Linked DNA regions of Homo sapiens. The protein of the gene in region 1 purifies or fractionates together with the protein of each later gene. This does not show direct contact. Each region holds a gene or a part of one and is shown on either strand. Other genes may lie near its edges.

Region 1 (3,732 bases):
CTTTTTTGATAAAAATGTTTATCAAATGTTTAGGTAACAACGTTTAGATCTATCAATGTTTAGGTAACGTTTAGATCCAGGTAAGGTACTGATGTAGAAAAAGGGTCATGGCTGAGGGTTTGGAAGGGAACTTGGTTTAGGATATGGAATATCTAGAAAAATGCCTGTGTGACTGTATGTTCACCTAACTTTTTTTGGCCTTAGTTTCTTCATTATACTGATGGAAATATATATGGAGGGTTTTTGTAAATTGTGAAGTGTAATACAGATGTAAAGATTTTTTTGGGGTTTTTTGTTTTGAGACAGAGTCTCGCTCTGTCACTCATGCTGGAGTGCAATGGCACAATCTCAGTTCATTGCAACCTCCGCCTCCCAGGTCCAAGCGATTTTCCTGCCTCAGCCTCTCAAGTAGCTGGGATTACAGGTGCCCACCACCACGCCCAGCTAATTTTTGAATTTTTAGTAGAGATGGGGTTTCCCCATGTTGGTCAGGCTGGTCTCCAACTCCTGATCTCAGGTGATCCACCCACCTCAACAAATTTAAATATGGCTTTAAAATATAGTTTGAAAACTGAATTAAGAATTAAAGGGGGCCAGGTGCAGTGGCTCATGCCTGTAATCCCAACAGTTTGGGAGGCCAAGGCAGGAGGAACACTTGAGATTAGGAGTTCGAGACTAGCCTGAGAAACATAACAAGACTGTCTCTCTACAAAACATAAAAAAAATTAGCTGAGCATGGTGACATGCGCCTGTAGTCCTAGCTACTTGGAAGGCTGAGGCAGGAGGACTGCTTGAGCCTAGGAAGTCGAGATGGCAGTGAGCGGTGATTGCACCACTGCACTCCAGCCTGGGTTGCAGAGTGACACCCTGCCTCAAAAATGAATAAGAATTAAAGAGATGAGGCCGGATGCCTCGGTATTTTTGGCGCTGCGATCGCGACACTGCACTCCAGCTTGGGGTGACAAGACTGTGTCAAAAAAAAAAAAAAGAACCTCTGACATACAAAATACTATTTAAAAAAGGGGTGAGGGGGCAGGGCATGGTGGCTTATGCCTATTATCCTAATACTTTGGGAGCCTGAGGCACGAGGCTCACTGGAGCCCAGGAGTTTGAAACCAGCCTAGGGAACATTTAAAAAAAAGGTGGGGGGGCGGTGCGGGGGCAGGGAATACATCTCTTTTCAAACTCCTGACCTCAGGTGTTCTACCCACCTCGGCCTCCCAAAGTGCTGGAATTACAGGTGTGAGCCACCATGCCAGGCCGAGACAGTGGTTTCTGAGAATTCTTTGAAATTGATAATTTTGTGGGCATTTCAGTGCATTTTTCTGGAAAGGTCCATTACCTTCAACAGAAATGTTGAAAAACAAAATGTTAGTGGTTACTGGTAAACTGTTTTGTGGTTGTGACTGTTTTTCAGTTTTTACCTGCTTGCTTTTCCCATTTTGTCAGCTGTCCCACCCATCACAATAGTTAACAGATTTGCTGTATAACCCTGCAGATAATTGCTAGTTTCTGCATCTTTTTATATACAAGATATGTCATTTAGTTTCTTGGTCTTTAGTTATTATTTTGTTCACAGCTTGGTGGGTGCAGTGCTTTTGGTCTTTCCATTTTCTTCCCTTTAATTATTTTATAAATTTTTTGAGACGGAGTCTCCCTCTTGCCCAGGCTGGAGTGCAGTGGCATGATCTTGGCTCACTGCAACCTCCACCTCCCAGGCTCAAGTGCTGCTTCTGCCTCAGCCTCCCTAGTAGCTGAGATTACAGGCACCTGCCATCAGGCCTGGCTAAGTTTTGTATTTTTAGTAGAGATGGGGTTTCACCATGTTGACCAGGCTGGTCTTGAACTCCTGACCTGAAGTGATCTGCCCACCTCAGCCTCCCAAAGTGCTGGGATTATAGCCATGAGCTTCTGTGCCTGGCCTTTTTTTGAGATGGAGTCTCACTCTGTCGCCCAGGCTGGGGTGCAGTGGTGCGATCTCGGTTCACTGCAACCTCCAACTCCCGGGTTCAAGTGATTCTCCTGCCTCAGCCTCCCGAGTAGCTGGGATTATAGGCGCCTGGCACCATACTTAGCTAATTTTTGTATTTTTAGTAGAGATGAGGTTTCACCATGTTGGCCAGGCTGGTCTTGAACTCCTGACCTCGTGATCCACCTGCCTCAGCCTCCCAAAGTGCTGGGATTACAGGCGTGAGCCACCGCACTCGGCTTCTTCTCTTTAATTCTTATTTATTTATTTTTGAGACAAAGTGTCACTCTGCCACCCAGGCTGGAGTGCAGTGGTGCAGTCACGGCTCACTGCCATCTCGACCTCCTAGGCTCAAGCAGTCCTCCTGCCTCAGCCTCCCAAGTAGCTGGGACTATAGGCGCATGTCACCATGCTCGGCTAATTTTTTTTATTTTGTAGAGAGAGAGTCTTGTTATGTTTCCCAGGCTAGTCTCGAACTCCTAATCTCAAGTGTTCCTCCTGCCTTGGCCTCCCAAACTGTTGGGATTACAGGCATGAGCCACTGCGTCTGGCCCCCTTTAATTCTTAATTCAGTTTTCAAATTATATTTTAAAGCCATATTTCAATTTTTTTCCTACACTTTTCATGCAAGAATAAGTTTTTAAAACTCTTAGTTGCCAGGCATGGTGGCTCATGCCTGTAATCCCAGCACTTTGGGAGGCTGAAGCGGGTGGATCACCTGAGGTCAGGAGTTCAAGACCAGCCTGACCAACATGGCGAAACCCCGTCTCTAATAAAAATACAAAAAATTAGCTGGGCGTGGTGGCACATGCCTGTAATCCCAGCTACTTGAGAGGCTGAGGCAGGAGAGTCGCTTGAACCCAGGAGGCAGAGGTTGCAGTGAGCCGAGATCATGCCATTGCACTCCAGCCTGGGTGACAAGAGTAAAAACTCTGTCTCTAAATAAATAAAAACATACATACATACAAACATATGTACAACTCTTAAGTTATCCTTTCTCCGAAACTGAGAATCTGGGCTTGGCTTGTGGCTCACGCCTGTAATCCAGCACAGGAAATTTAGAAATTAGCCCAGGTCAGTAGTGCGCCTTGTAGTCCCAGCTACTTGGGAGGCTGAGGTGGGAGGGTCACTTGAGTCCTGGAATTTAAGATGTCAGTGAGCTATGATTGTATCACTGCACTGTAGCCTATGCACCAAACAAGAACCGCCCCCCCATCTCAAAAAAAGAATTACGATGAAAGTGTAGTATAAGGGAAATACTAGTCTATGTTTTTGTATTAAAATTAACATTTCAAGAGTTGATAGCTAATATTTTTTAATACGGGGGGGATATGAATTTTTTTTTTTTTTTTTTGTTTTGGAGACAGGGTCTCACTCTATCACCCAGGCTGGAGGGCAGTGGTGCCATCACAGTTTGCTGCAGCCTCGACCTCCCAGACACAGGTGATCCTTTCTTTCACATCAGCCTTCTAAGTAGCTGGGACCACAGGTGAGTGCTGCCATGTCCAGCGAATTTTTTATTTTTTGTAGAGATGGGCTTCTGCCATGTCTCAGAATTTTGGTAGGCTGAGGCTGGTGGATCGCTTGAACCCAGGAATTTGAGACCAGCCTGGCCAACATGGTGAAACCCTGTCTTTACTAAAAATACAAAAATTAGCCGGGCGTGGTGGTGCATACCTGTAATCCCAGCTACTTGGGAGGCTGAGGCAGGAGAATCACTTGAACCTGGGAGATGGAGGTTGCAGTGAGCCGAGATCGTGCCA
Region 2 (3,732 bases), on another chromosome or scaffold:
GTGCTGTTGGGTTAAATTTGTGCCTTTCATTTTTCTTAGGTATTTATTTGTTCTTCAGTTAAAACAAGATATTCTCAGTGGAAAGTGAGTATTAGTTATTTAAGGATAAATGCACATTTTCGTGAGTGGTTGAAAAATTATTTTGAAAATAAGTTTATAGTTGTAAAAAAGAAATGGTCAACATAAAACATGTATTATTTTCATTTGTCTTAAAATGAAGGTTATGAAATCAACTTGTCTAACAAACTTGTGTTTTGGTCTCAGATTAGACTGTCCCTTTGATACAGCAGTGCAATTGGCAGCTTATAATCTGCAAGGTAAGCAATTCTTATGTTGACTGTTAAGACTCAAGTATAATCTTTTTTGTGTGTGTTTTTAGTTAAAGAAGATTCTAATTATGTGCAAGAAAAGAAACAACACTGTTTTTGTATAAACTTGTATCAGGGTCCAACTCTGACTTTTACTTGTTTTAGAACATTGCCTTCTTTTTCTTCTCTTTCATGTAATTGCGCCCTTTCCACCTAAAGTGTTGAAACGTCATACTCTACCTGATAAGTCTGTAAATGCTAAGATTGGGCCTTCGGCTAACTTTTTCCTTAAAAGAAATGCAGTTATGTAGGAGTGAATTGTTGGTGAAGCCATATAGCTTAGCAGTCCTTTTGCTCCAAACCTACATTTTGTTCAGAAATAACCACAGATGAGTACATACATGTTTGTGCATTGTTCAGATTTTTCCCTGCTGCTTTCTCCCCCCGATTTTTTTTAGTTCCTTTCAGTTATTTCTTTAGGATTAATAATTTTAAAATTTTGGAAGACAGGGACTATATTTAGATTGGTATATGGGGTCATATTCAGTGTATATCAGTATATTCTTTTGTTTTGTTTTTTTTTGAGACAGGGTCTCACTCTTGTCCCCAGGCTAGAGGGCAGTTGCATGATTGTAGCTCTCTGAAGCCTTGAACTACTGGGCTCAAACGATCTTCCTGCCTGAGTAGCTGGGTCTACAGGCCATTAGGCCTGGCTAATTTTTGTACTTTTTTTTTTTTTTTTTTTTTTTTTTAGAGACGAGGTCTTGCTATGTTGCCTAGACTGGCCTGAAACCATCTTCCACCTCAGCCCTCCCAAAGTACTGTGACTATAAGCATGAACCACCACACCCAGCCTTAGTAATATTCTTAATAGATGCCAGTTAATTGTCTTTTAACGATTGCTAAATTTTTTCATTTATTCACTATAAGGTCAGAGGTATTTCTTTATGGAAGTCTAGAAAGCAGTTTTCAAAGGTTAAGTAAGCACTGAAGTGTGAATACATTAAGAGAAAGATATGTAATTAAAAATACACTACCAAAAATAAATATGAGATATATGTGTATGACTAATATGCCAGATTTACTTTTGGAGACTTGTCTGAGTATTATGAATTTTTGTAAGAAATTCCTAAGAATCTTTCTAATCTTAGCAGTTTTCATTAATGAAATGGTTTTTGAAGGATTTAGCAGGAAATACATATAACTTTTGAAACTTATGTTTATAGCTGAACTTGGTGACTATGATCTTGCTGAGCATAGTCCTGAACTTGTCTCAGAGTTCAGATTCGTGCCTATTCAGACTGAAGAGATGGAACTGGCTATTTTTGAGAAATGGAAGGAATACAGGTATCTGGCGTTTGACCATACTTTCTTTAAAATCACCACAACAGTTATTTCATATTCATTTTCTTCTGTTTCTATCCTTGGTATAGAATTTATTTTATATTTATTGTTACTTTAAAAATCATTGTTTTAAATTTCAGAGGTCAAACACCAGCACAGGCTGAAACCAATTATCTGAATAAAGCCAAATGGCTAGAAATGTATGGGGTTGATATGCATGTGGTCAAGGTAAGCATTGTGTTGTGATGCTTTTTTAAAAATTTATTCTTTGGAGGTTCGCAGTGACTGTGGAATTTTTCAGTATGAGGGAGGGCATGGAGTTTGCATAAGCTAGCACTGGGTACTTTGGATGTATGGTTAAAAAGTTTGAGATTAAATACCAAATGACTAGAATCTCACAGAAAGGTTCATTATAAGAAAGAAGAGAAGCAACCAACATCCCTAACAAGGTACTTGGTCCTTTTAAGCTGTTATTTTATTTTATTTTATTTTTTTGCTATAAAAAATTGTTTTAAGCTTTTGAGCCATTTGTTATCCTTTTTACTTCCTGTTATACGACTTACACTGAGTAGGCTCTGTTAAAATAATTCAGGATGCAAAGTTGAAGATTTATAGCTTAAAGACTTTGATAAACTTTAGAACAGCTTTGTAGTGATTTAAGTTATTTCTAGTTTAACTAGTAACATTTTTCCAGAAAGGCGGTTGTATTAGTTCATTCTCGCACTGCTATAAAGACATAAATTTATAAAGAGGTTCAATTGGCTCATGGTTTTGCAGGCTGTACAGGCTTCTCCCTCTCAGGAGGCCTCAGGAAACTTATAATCATTGGGCAACGTGAAGGGCAAACAGGCACATCTGTACATGGCTGGCAGGAGGGAGAGAGAGCAAAGAGGGAGGTGCTACACACTTTCAGACAACCAGATCTTGTGAGAACTCATTCACTATCATGAGAACAGCAAGGGGGAAGTCCGTCTCCATGATTCAGTCACCTCCCACCAGGCCCCTCCTCCAATACTGGGGATTACAATATGACACAAGATTTGGGTGTAGACATAGAGCCAAACCGTATCAGCAGTCTTTTCCAAAATACATGATTTAAGTGGTAAGTATAATATGGGAAGAATGTGGAAACAGCTTTGTTTGTAGTGGGAGTGTAACTACCCACTTTCAATGAAGATACACTTTAAAACTCTAGTGTTTCAATGACTAGAAATAAAAATATATGCATAAATTTTTCTGAGAATATTATTATGGATACTCTAATTGTTGAAAACATCTCATATATTAATATTAGCCTGTATATAATTAATACAATTCAATACAAAAATAAAATTTAAAAGTTGTGTCAATGTGAAACCTGTTTTGTACAAATAAAGCTAACACATTTTTCTCCCCTTAAATTAGGCTAGAGATGGGAATGACTATAGTTTGGGACTAACACCAACAGGAGTCCTTGTTTTTGAAGGAGATACCAAAATTGGCTTATTTTTTTGGTAAGCAAGAGTTATTGTCAAAGATACTTACTGTTGTTTTGGTTTTTAATGAGTAAATAAAGTTAATACATAAACAAGTTTGGAAATCAAATAGTTTTGAAAAACTTGTCAATGAAAGCAACTGTCTCCTGTCACACTATTACGCATCATTATTCCTACTCTCCAGAGGCAATTATTAAAACTCTTCTAGCTGTATTTCCCATTAGTTTCAAAGTATACCACAATCTATATCTTGATATAAATATTTATATTTTTATATGTATCAGATGTTCACATGGGCACTTTCTCCCTCCATGTAGTCATGTCATTGCTTTTAATATTTATTATTCCACAATCCCTTTACCCCCTATTGTGTAAGAGGAAGATACTAATATTTTTATCCCTTCTCTAAGCTGTGCTCCTTATACTGTTCCAGCTTTTATCGTTCATACTTTTAAATTACATTTATGTTTTACTTTTACATCAAGGATAGATTTTACTTGGATTTCTTGGCCATAATTGAGTCCATCAGATTTTGTCTGGTATTCTAAAAGCTGAGAATCAGGGTACTGTTTACAATAAGATGTCTCTATCAGAATAGTACAGAG
Region 3 (3,046 bases), on another chromosome or scaffold:
GTTGGACTGGGCTCTGACAGATGGCCTATTGAGGTCAACTTGAATGTGAGGGCTACGGTGTGGTTTCAAACATTCATGATGGATGTATTTTCCTACCCCTAACTTAAGGAGAAAAAAAAAAAGACTTCCTTTTTTTGCCAAAGTCCAGAAAGGGGCCTTTAGCCTTTAGTAGGAGCTCAAATTGTTGGGGCCCCTCTACCTCTCTCAGGGCTAGAACTGCCTGACTCTTGGTGGACGAGCCCTTCAGGGTTCTGCTTTCAGCCCCACCTGGACAGAGGCTTACAAGACTAGGGTCTGGACCAGAATCTGTGTATTTCTGTCTGGGACCAGGAAGCCGCAGCTGTCCCATCATCCCCAGCAAATCCTAGAAGTGGAGTCTGGATACTTCAAGGATAGAAGTGTTGGCACGCACAGCCATGGACCCAGCTGAGCAGAGCAGACGCTTTGCAGGCTGCCCCTGGCTTCTTCCTCCCTTTCCCGCTTCTGCTCTCTTTATGGACTGGTCAGAGGGTAGGTGGGAAAGAACAGACAAGCCATGGGAAGTTGGCAGTGGGGAGATTTCCACTGTGGAAACCGCCTGGGAATTCCGGCCAGCAGCTTCCTCCTTCAGCCACCTGGCCATACCCCTTAAATAAGCCCCTCACCTTGCTGCCTCAGGACCTTCAAGATTCCATCTGTGGGCTGGCCGGCAAGATGGCACCAGTGGGGACCCACACCCTGGCTGGGCAGAGGTGCTGCTAGCAACCTCTCTTCCTCTATAAGAGGAAATGGAAAATGCAGGGTGTGGAATTGCCCTTTGGGGTCCTTCCTTAATTGAAGGCCACCTTCTCACAGGTTTCATTCTGCAGGGATTTACTGGAATCTATTGGTGCTGCTGCATGAGTCTGCTGACAACCTGACTGCACAAGGACTGGGTAGCAGACTCCTCAGAGTCCTCTTGACACAAATGTCAGATTTGTGTCACTCTTCTGCCTTCGTGAAAAGCCAATAGCACTCTCAGATATCAGGGGATTTTAGTTCCAAGCAGGGACCCTGGTTTCCATACTGCCCTCAGCTGGAGTTTGGATCCAAAGGCTCTGGCTAAGTCATTATGTCACTTTTTCACAGGAATGTAAATTTGACTGTCACCTCTGAATTTGTTCAGTGTCCCACCATGGTCTATGAGAAGTACACTGGAAGCGTGGGGGGAACACATGACATGATTTGTGAATATCATCATCTTTGCCAGACAAGTCTCCAGGGGATCCCTGTTTCCCAACTGAAAGGTGTGAACGGACACACACACAGCCTGGATGACGCCTTGGCTGTTCTAAGGGGCTGTAAGGTGGGCTCTGGGCCTTCCAGCTAGGCTCTCAAGCACAGCAGAAGCCTCACTGGGCTGCTATGTCTCTGTATTTGTGGCTTGTGTGGTAGCCTCAGAAGCAGAGCTGTTTGGCAGACTGGCTGGAGAAATTCCCTCTAGGAGACTTGCCTGTGCTGTGCTTCCAGGTCACAGAGCCCCCCGGAAACTCACAGGGGCCCTCTTCCCAGAAAAGAATCTATTCTATCACTTCAGAATCAGGACACTCAAGCTCTGGCAGAGGAAGGCCAAGTTACTTTCATGGTCTTACCCTCTGCTTTTCCCCTTTTTGCAAAAAACCACTGGCCAAATCCGAACCATTGCCCTTGTTTCCCCCACGTTCTCTCTCAGATCTTTGTCTCGAAGGGAAAACATAGTGGATGAAAAGGTGTGGCAGGCTTTGGCACCTTGTTAAAATTTCTAGTCATCTGTGGATGTTACCTTGCTTGTCCACAGCAGCCAGTCACCCTGGCCAGTCCCACTTCCTGGATAATTCTCTACCCTCACCCCACAGAGCCATCTCTCTCCAGACCAAAAGCTGGAAGGAGAGTTGCTTTGAGAGCTTGTTTTTACAACTGCATGTTTATTATGATACTTTCTCTCCAAAGGAAACTTTTAAATCAATGGGAACAATTAGCAACAGAAAGAGCACAGTCCCTGCTTTTGACTGGGTTCCTATTTTAAGCACAAATGAGAGCTCTGGAGCCAGAATGCCAGGGTTCTAACTTCAGCATTCACTTACTAGCTGTATGATCTTGGCCAAGTCACTTCACCTCCCTGAGCCCCAATTCCCAAGTTTGTGAAATGGCAACAATACCTATGTGTCACTGGATTATTGGTTAAAACAGAATGAGATTCCTTGTGTGAAAATAGCTATTATACCTGACACACTCATCGTATGGGCTCTGCAAAGGGATATTCCCCAACCTGTCCTTCCTGACAGGAAGCATAGGGCACTGCAGATGGGGAAGCATGTCACCTTGGCAGTGACTCGGTGGCTTCCCAAGCAGGAGTGTCAGGGGAACCATGAGAGAGAGTCTAGGAGCAAACACATCACCACCCTGAGCAGATACAGGAGTGGGGAGGGGGCTGTAACTCAGTGAGTGGCTTCCAGGGGCCCCAGGCCCTGCTGGATGTGGGCCAAGCCCTACAGCTTCCCTAGGCAGTAAGTAAAAACATTCTCCTAGCATTAAAATGGTTTCCATAACTACTTTTGTCCTGGCTTCTTAATACTGGGTACCTGGCATGCAGCCAAGAACTCTGCTTTTCCGTGGTGCTTATGTATTAAGTAGATTAGCTGGGGAGGGATATTCCTTGTTTAATGGCAGATCCAGGACACTCCGGAAGCTCTGCCCACCAACTTCACCTTACCAGGCGAGAGTAGCACTGCTTGGAAGGCTGCTCCTGCCTTTTAAAGCCTGTCTACGTATTAGCTCCTCCACCAAGGAAAAGAATTTGCTGTTAGATGGCTAGGGCAGGACACGGACAGTCATCAGGGGATCTATGTTTGGCTTATGGCAAGTGGCTTCACTCCCACGGCTCAGGTGCCATTAGGGGATATTAAGCCCGCTTACTAACCCCACTGACCACCACTGCATCATTTGGAAAATGGAGAGTCTCCCTGCCATTCTCTGATAGCTGTCAGTCAGGAGCTGACCTCACAGACGGGCAATTTCCCCTCCTATTCCGGTCACTGGTGACACTGGG

The links.
Region 2: the proteins of GPBP1 (region 1) and EPB41L5 purify together in Homo sapiens (affinity purification with mass spectrometry; 2 studies listed by BioGRID and IntAct, with this or other methods). This does not show direct contact.
Region 3: the proteins of GPBP1 (region 1) and OTUB2 purify together in Homo sapiens (affinity purification with mass spectrometry; one large-scale study listed by BioGRID and IntAct). This does not show direct contact.

What each region holds. Positions count from the first base shown.
Region 1 is NC_000005.10:57,180,461-57,184,192, forward strand, and holds part of GPBP1 (vasculin), read left to right. Parts: intron 1-3,732. UniProt on the Homo sapiens protein: Functions as a GC-rich promoter-specific transactivating transcription factor.
Region 2 is NC_000002.12:120,075,437-120,079,168, forward strand, and holds part of EPB41L5 (band 4.1-like protein 5), read left to right. Parts: intron 1-39; coding exon 40-84; intron 85-264; coding exon 265-317; intron 318-1,534; coding exon 1,535-1,655; intron 1,656-1,792; coding exon 1,793-1,880; intron 1,881-3,056; coding exon 3,057-3,145; intron 3,146-3,732. UniProt on the Homo sapiens protein: Plays a role in the formation and organization of tight junctions during the establishment of polarity in epithelial cells.
Region 3 is NC_000014.9:94,046,385-94,049,430, forward strand, and holds the end of OTUB2 (ubiquitin thioesterase OTUB2), read left to right. Parts: 3' UTR 1-2,546; downstream 2,547-3,046. UniProt on the Homo sapiens protein: Hydrolase that can remove conjugated ubiquitin from proteins in vitro and may therefore play an important regulatory role at the level of protein turnover by preventing degradation.